Linked DNA regions of Homo sapiens. The protein of the gene in region 1 interacts with the protein of each later gene in a pairwise test. Each region holds a gene or a part of one and is shown on either strand. Other genes may lie near its edges. The genes, in order: SMAD9, MCM3AP and KDM6A.

Region 1 (3,657 bases):
GTGTATGTACAATGAAGGATTACTTGATTTTTTTGTGTGATATATTCACTTCATTTCTAATATTATAAAACCTTATTTTTGGAACAAATAAACAGGAATGATGGGAGGAATAGTATATGAGACCTTACTGACTGGTTCTTGGGAGTGATTGTTAACATGGGTTGCAATCCACTTTTATTTTTTTATTTTTATTTATTTATTTTTTTGAGATGACATCTTGCTCTGTCACCCAGGCTGGAGTTCAGTGGCGCTACCTTGGCTCACTGCAACCTCTGCCTCCCAGGTTCAAGCAATTCTCCTGCCTGAGCCTCCCGAGTAGCTGGGATTACAGGTGCCCACCACCATGCCTGGTTAATTTTTGTATTTTTAGTAGAGAAGGGGTTTCACTGTGTTGGCCAGGCTAGTCTTGAACTCCCGACCTCAAATGATCTGCCCACGTCGGGCTTCCAAAGTGCTGGGATTACAGGCGTGAGCCACCGCACCCAGCTGCGATCCACTTTTAAATGGATTTGTGGAAAAAGCACAGATTATCATTAAACTAAGCGGCATTTAGGTCACACATCTCATTCATCTGATCAGTGATCTGACAACCTGATGGGAGAGTCACATCTCCTAGGGTTTCAGGAATCAGTGGGAGAGGCACGCTATGAAAGGGCATGTGAAGGAAGGCTGTGTTTTTGTGTCTGCAGGTGTGCACTTGTACTACGTCGGGGGAGAGGTGTATGCCGAGTGCGTGAGTGACAGCAGCATCTTTGTGCAGAGCCGGAACTGCAACTATCAACACGGCTTCCACCCAGCTACCGTCTGCAAGATCCCCAGCGGCTGCAGCCTCAAGGTCTTCAACAACCAGCTCTTCGCTCAGCTCCTGGCCCAGTCAGTTCACCACGGCTTTGAAGTCGTGTATGAACTGACCAAGATGTGTACTATCCGGATGAGTTTTGTTAAGGTAAGGAGTGCTTGCTATCACGTTATAAAATGTTCAGTGAAAAACAAAACAAAAAAGCACCCTGACTGATGTGGCAGGCAGTTGTGCGGTCAATTCTGATAGACAAAACCAATTTATTATTATTATTATTTTTTGAGACGGAGTTTCACTCTGTCACACAGGCTGGAGTGCAGTGGCATGATCTTGGCTCACTGCAACCTCTGCCTCCCGGGTTCAAGCGATTTTCCTACCTCAGCCTCCCGGGTAGCTGGGACTACAGGCACGCACCACCACGCTTGGCTGATTTCTGTATTTTTAGTAGAGACAGGGTTTCACCATATTGGCCAGAGTGGTCTTGAACTCCTGACCTTGTGATCCTCCCATCTTGGCCTCCCAAAGTGCTGGGATTACAGGCGTGAGCCACCGCGCCCAGCCCAAAACCAATTTTTTTGAATTCTATTGTTTTTAGGAGGAGTTCCTCTTTGAGTATAAACTGTCTTGTTTAGCAATTATATGAAAATTGTTACACATTACTTTTGAGGAAAAACAAGGTGGCTATTTGATTGTTTTTAATGCAGATGATAAAGTAACAACAGTAATTTTACAGGACTAGTGCAACAGAGATTTTTTCCATCCTTCCAATTGCCAAGCACTGTTATCACTCAGTGAATGTTGGTGAATTTATCTGAATTCAGTAAGATACTCTCCTTACTCTTAGAAAGCATACAGGCACATGGAGGAGATAATATTTATGAATAAGCTACAAAAATAGGCAGGGTTGGTTCTAATACAAGATAATAAACTAAGTAGTGTTATAAAGGTATAAACAATTTGGAATAGAAACGGGTGTGATTAATTCAGAGAGCAGTATATGTTCTGTTGATGAATATTTGTTGAATTTCTCATATCGAATCTTATTAAGGTTGCTATGAAGGCTGGAGAACCAAGGAAGTTTCTTAGTGGGAAGGAAAGACAACTGGGTTTGTATATGGAAGTGAAAGCCTTCAGTTTCATCACCTGCTATTTTGTCTGTTGCAAAGTACTCGCAAATGAGTCTAGTATTTCAAAATATGGGCTTATCAAAGTATCGGGGTATGTGTGACAGTTTTCTTACTGCCATGATTCCATCCAGGGAATCAGCATGGCTTGTTCCAGGCATTTTTTTCAAAGTAAATTTTATTAGCACTTTAAAATTACCATGACAAATAATTTTTCTATACTCAAATTATGTTTTTATTATCACTTTAGTAATTATTTAAAAAGTAAGAACAATATAGTTTCCAATTTTAAAAAACAGCTGCTTGAAATTATTTCTCTTTCATGGTGACAAAGCAGTTTCATTCAAATTTAGTGTTTTGAAAGCATATATTATAAAGTTATATTAACAAATAACTTCGAAATCTTTTCAAATGTTCTGTTGCTTTAGAAACGGCAGAGGGCATCATTTGAATCATACAGTTTTTTTTTTTTCCGGGTCTGTGTTTTTAAAATTAGGATGAAATGCCAATATCTCATAGGTAATTATTTCACTCTGATTAAATATAAGCTTATATAGAAATCTGATTTTCCTAATAACTAGATACATTTCTCAGATAGGCAGCATTTACATTCATAAAGCTACACAATTGACACAGAAGACAAACTGTTCCTAATACTGCAGGAACTTTTAAAATAAATACATAGTAAATATAACTATAGATCATTTTTTTTTAACATTTGAGATGAGCAGCTGTAGCTACCACTGGGCTGATGGATCAGATCTCTTTAAGGTTTCTTTCAGCTCTGATTTTTACTGATTCTAGGACTTAGTCAGTCAACAAATGTTTATTGAGCACCTGCCATGTGCAGGCCAGGCACGTGGGACATGCCAATGTTTACTCACAGATCTCTGACCTCAGGGAACCAATATTCTAGGAAGGAGAGATGGATAATAAACAACAGCCAAAACACAGAAGAAGGATGGAAAGAGAAAGTCTGGGGGCAGGGTGAAGGGAATTGGAGCACGGGGGCAGTGGAGTCATCTGCACATGAGGGTGGGCCTCATTGAAAAGGTGACAGGTCAGCAGAGACTGGAAGGAGACATGGAGCTAGGCCCAGGGACCCCTGGAGGAAGAGCAGAAGAAGAGGGAAGAGCAAGGCAACAGCATACACCTGGAAACTCTGAAGAGCAGGCAGGCCAGTGTGGCTGGGGCCTAATGAGCAGGGGAAGTGAGATGAGAGCAGCCGCAGGGAACCATAGCAAGGCCTCCTGAACCTCTGCTACGAGTTCAGCGGTGACTGTAAGGAGGTGGCGAGCTTTTGCAGGGATCAGAGCAGAGCATTTTCATGATCTAACTTCTATTCTTAAAGGATCGCCCTGCCTGCTGTGTGGAGGATAGATATTATACAGGCAAGGTTGCAAGTAGGGAAACCACTTAGGAGGCTATAGTAATAGTCAGGTGAGAGTCGCCCCCACCTGGAGGGATCCAGTACAGCTGTGAGAAGTGGAAGGATTCTGAATTGTGAAGGCGGATCAGGCGTGGGAGAAAAAGAGGAAGATGAAGTTAGTTGCCTTCAATCAAGATGGAGAAGACGCAGGTGTAATTGAGATGTCCGTTGCATTCAAGTGGAGTTGCTGAGTAGCCAGTTCGATATAAGAGTCTGGATTCGGGGAGAGAGGTTTGGGCTTGAAATACAAATTTGGGAATTGTCTGCAAAGGGACCGTATTTAACTCCCTAAGTGTGGATGAGAA
Region 2 (3,657 bases), on another chromosome or scaffold:
AAGCTCCCAAAGACCCGAGTCCACCTCTCTCTAACAGTCACAGACCCTCACTGCAGACTAAGAGAAAGACCCCCGAGTCACCTCTCCAACAGTCACAGACCCTCACTGCAGATAAAAGCAGGGGAGTGTCCTCACTTTCAGCCGGAGTTTTCTAACTCCTGTAATGACCTCAATGACAAAAAATCATGGTGCAGGATGTTTACTAAAAGGATTGACTTGTAACAACTGCAAATATTCAAAATATATCACTATTCTAAAACTGTCTCAGTATTCACCATGACTTTAATATAAGAATCATATAATGGACGTTAACTGGGTTCTTACCTGAATGAGTAAACTGCTATTACACTTAAGTTACAATGTAGCTTGCAAGGAAAAGGAAATGCAACAACTTCACACTCAAAATATATACTTATTGTTTTCATGTTGAAAAATTCTAATACCTGGGCCCGGCCTGGTGGCTCACGCCTGTAATCCCAGCACTTTGGGAGGCCAAGACTGGCAGATCACCTGAGGTCGGGAGTTCGAGACCAGCCTGACCAACATGGAGAAACCCCATCTCTACTAAGAATACAAAAATTAGCCGGGCGTGGTGGCGCATGGCTGTAGTCCCAGCTACTCAGGAGGCTGAGGCAAGACAATCACTTGAACCCGGGAGGCGGACGTTGCAGTGAGCTGACGTTGCGCTCACTCTGTCATGGTACTCCACCATGGGTAACAGAGCAAGACTCCATCTCGAGGAAAAAAAAAAAAAGAAAAATTCTAATACCTAATAATAATTTTTAGAATATAAAAATCACTGTATCAATGATATGATGTTTGATGGCAGCTTTTATTACTATATGTTATTATATTAAGGAAACATGGTGATTATTCAAATTATCCACAGCTTTTAAAAAGAGGAAACTCCTATAGCTGATTTTTTTTTTCTTTTTGAGATGGAGTTTCGCTCTTGCTGCCCAGGCTGGAGTACAATGGCACAATCTCGGCTCACCGCAACCTCAGCCTCCCGGGTTCAAGCCATTCTCCTGCCTCAGCCTCCCAAGTAGCTGGGATTACAGGCATGTGCCACCACGCCCGGCTAATTTTGTCTTTTTAGTAGAGATGGGGTTTTTCCATGTTGGTCAGGCTGGTCTCGAACTCCTGACCTCAGGTGATCCACCAGCCTCGACCTCCTAAAGTGCTGGGATTACAGGCGTGAGCCACCACGCCCAGCATTTTTTTTTTTTTTTGAGACAGAATCTCACCCTGTTGTCCAGGCTGGAGTGCAGTGGCACAATCTCGGCTCACTGTAACCTCCACCTCGCCAGTTCAAGTGATTCTCCTGCCTCAGCCTCCCAGGTAGCTGGGACTACAGATGCACACCACCGCACCCAGCCTGCTTATTTATTATTTATTTATTTATTGTAGAGATGGGGGTTTTGCCATGTTGGCCAGGCTAGTCTTTAACTCCTGACCTCAGGTGGTCCCTCATGCCTCAGCCTCCCAAAGTGCTGGGATTACAGGTGTGAGCCACCATGCCCAGCCCGGCTGAAATTTAAGAGAAAAAAATTGGCTAAGAGAAGTACCTGTGTTTTTTCCTTTTATTTTTGGTCCCTGCATATATTTTTAGTGTTAATGGAATACTTACTTTTTAGTAGGTAATACATTCACACAGTTCAACATTGTAACAGTGTAAGAATGCCCTGTCCAAGACGGAGCACTCCACCATAACCTCTGCCCCTCGGAATCCCGCTCCCTCTACAGACAGGAGCCCATTCTTTTGCATCCTCCCACTACTATTTTATACATACATTAGCAAACATATTTGCACATTTATGTACACATACACGCAACACTCACTCCAAGAAGACAGGCAGACTATGAAGATCAGACACAGCATATCACAGGCTCTGAGACTCAACAGCAATAGAGCCCAATGGAAAGGAGTTGCTCCTGCCCTGATGGCACCCAAGATGACGACCTCACCAGGCCCCTAGAACCTCTGCCACCAAGTGCCATACCTTGCCGCATGATCCTGTCTCTCTGGTCAAGCAGGCGGTACTTCTCCTTGGATGTCTCAGCCACAGTGCCTATCAGGGTACTGAGGGAGAGCACACATGGCCCGAGGCCCTCGGAGCCCTCGGAGGCTGAGTCAAAAGAGTCTCCCTCGAATTGGTGGGCCTTTAGAAGACTTGGCTTCTTCACTGGAGAGCTATAAAGTAAACACCACACTGAGGGCCCTCGTCCCAGGAAGGCCTTCAGAGCATTTTCATTTCTGAACACGTCCCCTCATCTTTCAAGATTTTCTGGTCCTCTAAAGCTGAGAAACTACAAGCACTGAAATGAGATGAGTTTTGATAAGGATGGTAATGAGCACAAAAGCGTTATTCACATTACTCACTGACTTTAATATAATTTTGAAATATTTCATACTTTTGAAAAACAAAATAGCCTGGGCAACATAGGGAGACCCCATCTCTACAAAAAATTTAAAAATTAGCCGGGCATGGTGGCATGTGCCTCTAGTCCCAGCTACTCGAGAGGCTGGGGTGAGAGGATTGCTTGAGCCTGGCAGGCAGAGGTTGCAGTGAGCTGAGATTATTACACTGCTGCTCTCCAGCCTGGGTGACAGAGTGAGACTCTAACTTACCACCCCCCGAAAAAAAAAAAAAGATAGGCTCATTTAAACAGCTAAAATGAACACTTACTGATTTCTATTTCAAAGAAATAAACTCAGCATGAAAAAAGTCTTTAATATCATAAGGAAATATTAAGCCTACATGTTTTAAAACAGAAATTATTTTGGTAGAAGGACATACTAAAAGGAATCAGGCATTCTCTCTCAGCTTCCCCATTTTCTAGCTTTCATCATTTTCTGAACTTGAATGTCAAAGATTATGTCAAACCAGCAACTAAACTGCTCGTCACAAAACGGAAAGTGAGGAAAATACATTGGCCAAAAGATGAAAAGATGGATTCAGCCGGAGATCTGTCAAAGTAGGCCTGGTGTGAAAAGCAAAAGCCTTTGAGAACAGAGTTCCCCAGACAGACAAGGTAGCCAGGGCACTTCACATCACATGCCGGTTAACACAACTAACATGGCCGACCGTGTCTGCTTCACTGTGATAAGCTGCACCTGCAAAAAGTCATGCTGCCCTTCCTTTAGGAGACAGCCTTTTTTTTTTTGAGATGGGGTCTCGCTCTGTTGCCCAGTCTGGAGTGCAGTGGCGCAATCTCGGCTCACTGCAAGCTCCGCCTCCCGGGTTCACGCAGTTCTCCTGCCTCAGCCTCACAAGTAGCTGGGACTACAGGCACCTGCCACCATGCCCGGCTAATTTTTTGTATTTTTAGTAGAGATGGGGTTTCACCATATCAGCCAGGATGGTCTCAATCTCCTGACCTTGTGATCCGCCCGCCTTGGCCTCCCAAAGTGCTGGGATTACAGGCGTGAGCACTGCGCCCGGCCAGGAGACAGCTCTTCAGGAAAAAAAAAAAAAAAAAAGTAATGCTGGAAACTGCTGAAAGTGATTATTAGAAATGCATGGTTTGGCCGGGCATGCATCTCTAGTCAGGAGTTCGAGACCAGCCTGGCCAACATGGTGAAACCCCATCTCTACTAAAAATACAAAAATATTAGCTGGGCGTGGTGGAGCGCACCTGTAATCTCAGCTACTA
Region 3 (3,203 bases), on another chromosome or scaffold:
GCAGAGCAAACACTGCTGCTTCATAACCCAGCTAACTATGTACTCACATGTTGATTTGACTTACTAATGTAAATTGGTCATAGACTTGCATCAGGTCCTCCATTTTGTACTGTTCTAGCACCACAAAGTTTTCCAAGTTTCCGCTTGTTTTTCGTGCACAATCTTGGCAATGTACTATGTAGGTCTTTCGTGAATTACTCTCATTAGTGACAAAAAGCAGATCAAAAACCTCCACCTGTTTTATACAAGAGAAAAACGTATTCAATAGAGATAGTGGTATTTACTGTACTGCTTTAGTATAATCATGGAATTCTACTTGAATGAAATTGTGGACAGTGATCTCTGGTTAAGAGTAGGTGGTAAGAAAAACATGGCTGTGTTTGAGAATCTTTAACAGACCAGGTTTATTTTGCACCAAATCCAAAGACATGGGTAGTAATGCATATTTAGGGGAATAATCAAAGGGAATGACATACTCATGACAACCACTGGCAAAGCCCAGTTCAAAAGTTTGATAAAGGTCAACCTATTTTTAAATCTAAAACATTAGTATACAATCAGACATAAGTGATCATTTTTATGTATTCATGAGTACAGCATGATTTTAGAAATAATACCTCTATCTTATACAGAAAGATTGATGAGTTGCTAGGGTTCAGGTAGGATAAGGAACAACACACCTAACTGGAATCTATCTGATCTCCTAATGACTCACTTTGGTCAGGCCATATGACATTTAAAAAAAAAATCAATGGATTCTATCATTTCAAATAAAGGTTGATGCTAGAATTACAGAATTTCAAGGTTTGAAATGGACCATCAACATCCTGTCTTTGGCTTATCCTTAAATTTCTTCAATGACAGAAAACTCTTATGATCCCATGTCTTCTTTTAACAGTTAACTACAATCCTAGAGTTCACCATGTTATCCATTACTGTCAACAAGCAGCAATACAAACCTAGTGACCTGAGCTAGAAAATTGGTGAGCATTCTTCAACTTGTCCTTCCACTTCTGCCATTTAATGAGGTGTCTCGCTGATTTTACCCTCTAAATATTTTTGAATTCTTTCCCTTCTTTAATATTCCCATTGCCAGGTTCTAGTCTAGGCCTTAAAATAACTTTTTTTTTTTTACAGGTACTTTATTTATTTATTTATTTATTTATTTATTTATTATTATTATTATTTTTTTAAATTATACTTTAAGTTTTAGGGTACATGTGCACATTGTGCAGGTTAGTTACATATGTATACATGTGCCATGGTGGTGCGCTGCACCCACTAACTCATCATCTAGCATTAGGTATATCTCCCAGTGCTATCCCTCCCCCCTCCCCCCATCCCACAACAGTCCCCAGAGTGTGATGTTCCCCTTCCTGTGTCCATGTGATCTCACTGTTCAATTCCCACCTATGAGTGAGAATGTGCGGTGTTTGGTTTTTTGTTCTTGCGATAGTTTACTGAGAATGATGGTTTCCAATTTCATCCATGTCCCTACAAAGGACATGAACTCATCATTTTTTATGGCTGCATAGTATTCCATGGTGTATATGTGCCACATTTTCTTAATCCAGTCTATCATTGTTGGACATTTGGGTTGGTTCCAAGTCTTTGCTATTGTGAATAATGCTGCAATAAACATACGTGTGCATGTGTCTTTATAGCAGCATGATTTATAGTCATTTGGGTATATACCCAGTAATGGGATGGCTGGGTCAAATGGTATTTCTAGTTCTAGATCCCTGAGGAATCGCCACACTGACTTCCACAATGGTTGAACTAGTTTACAGTCCCATAACTCTTAAGACCACTGCAATAGCTTATATATCGCTGTCCTTTCCAACCACTTTTCTCCCTGAAACACATATCTTACTTACCCTTAGTTGCCTGCTCAAAACCTTTTAATGGCTTCAATAACCTTGGAATATCAAATTCCTTAAAACCATTCAAGATGTGCTATAAATTAAATGCCACCTAGACTTATGAGCGGAATTTGCACAGTCTGTGTTCCAGCCAAATCGGAACACATTCAACCTTTTCTAAAACCATTTCATTTCCCTGTTCTCTTCTTGTGCCTATAGCCCATGACAGTCTACCTCCGATTCTCATCACTTTTTTAGTCTACTTGATATCATACTCTTTTTTCCAAGGATGGACTCAAATGCTAATACGTTTGTGAGTTCTTATGCCAATACTAGAAGAAAAAATTAGGTCATTTTCCCCCTCAGTGTTATCATTAACAGGAAGTCCAACTTCACATTCATCATAGTCTCATGTACATTACAATTAGTTGTTTATAATCTGTCTGCTCCAAGTAGAATTTAAGCTCCTTCATAGGAGGCACCACATCTTTGTTCCTGCACCTCTTGCAAGCCTTGGCCACACAAGATTGACAAATGTATTGTTAATTGCACCAGAGAGGACTGATAATCGATCTGCCTAGAGTTACACCAAACATCCAGTTTATTGGCATCTGTGTACATCTAGATTGTTCTTAGTTTAAAATCTCAGACTAAATTTGCTGATTATTGTCTGTTGAAGATCTACCACAAAAATGACTCTGCAGTAGATACTTTTAAGGTTAATTCACAGTGAAATATCATTATTATCACACTGAATTTTAATATAATGGCTAAGCAACAAAATTGAATCCAATGTTAATTACTATAAACTGGATTACATAAAAGTATAAAAAAGTTTTTTAAAAATAAAGAGAAACCAACAGTGGAGAGGGAAGAGGCTTTATAAAACAACTGTGGATAAAAACAATTACTTACTTCACAAATGCTACAGTAATGAGCTGGTTCTTCTTTTGTCCGCCCATGCCATATAATCTCTTTTCCTGCAGCAATGAGAGCTTCCCTCAATGTCTGACATTGCTTCAGAGTTCTTAGAAGACAATACCTATTGTGGGGGAGAAATTATTTGTGACCAGCAACTGAATATTGAATATTTTTAGCATAAAAGATATACCAACTAGAAATAATGCCAAGAGACTTGATTCTAATGTCTATGACTTCATAATTTTTCTTTCATCAATTTATCAAATATTCTCAGATTTTAAAATGACAATGCTCAGCAGGCCTGATGAAGACAATATTAAAACATTTAAAGTTGAGAAAAGTAATATCTGGATATCAAAATATAATGGTCTTAGTACATAAAAACTGACTCCCTGCTTAAATGTGAGTTGCTAATTTTGG

Evidence for each region.
Region 2: the proteins of SMAD9 (region 1) and MCM3AP interact in a two-hybrid assay, tested with the Homo sapiens proteins (one large-scale study listed by BioGRID and IntAct).
Region 3: the proteins of SMAD9 (region 1) and KDM6A interact in a two-hybrid assay, tested with the Homo sapiens proteins (one large-scale study listed by BioGRID and IntAct).

Annotation. Positions count from the first base shown.
Region 1 is NC_000013.11:36,850,708-36,854,364, reverse strand, and holds part of SMAD9 (mothers against decapentaplegic homolog 9), read left to right. Parts: intron 1-689; coding exon 690-946; intron 947-1,847; coding exon of another isoform or gene 1,848-2,027; exon of another isoform or gene 2,028-3,657. UniProt on the Homo sapiens protein: Transcriptional modulator activated by BMP (bone morphogenetic proteins) type 1 receptor kinase. SMAD9 is a receptor-regulated SMAD (R-SMAD).
Region 2 is NC_000021.9:46,275,524-46,279,180, forward strand, and holds part of MCM3AP (germinal-center associated nuclear protein), read right to left. Parts: intron 2,195-3,657; coding exon 2,004-2,194; intron 1-2,003.
Region 3 is NC_000023.11:45,107,111-45,110,313, reverse strand, and holds part of KDM6A (lysine-specific demethylase 6A), read right to left. Parts: intron 2,905-3,203; coding exon 2,778-2,904; intron 236-2,777; coding exon 65-235; intron 1-64. UniProt on the Homo sapiens protein: Histone demethylase that specifically demethylates 'Lys-27' of histone H3, thereby playing a central role in histone code. Demethylates trimethylated and dimethylated but not monomethylated H3 'Lys-27'.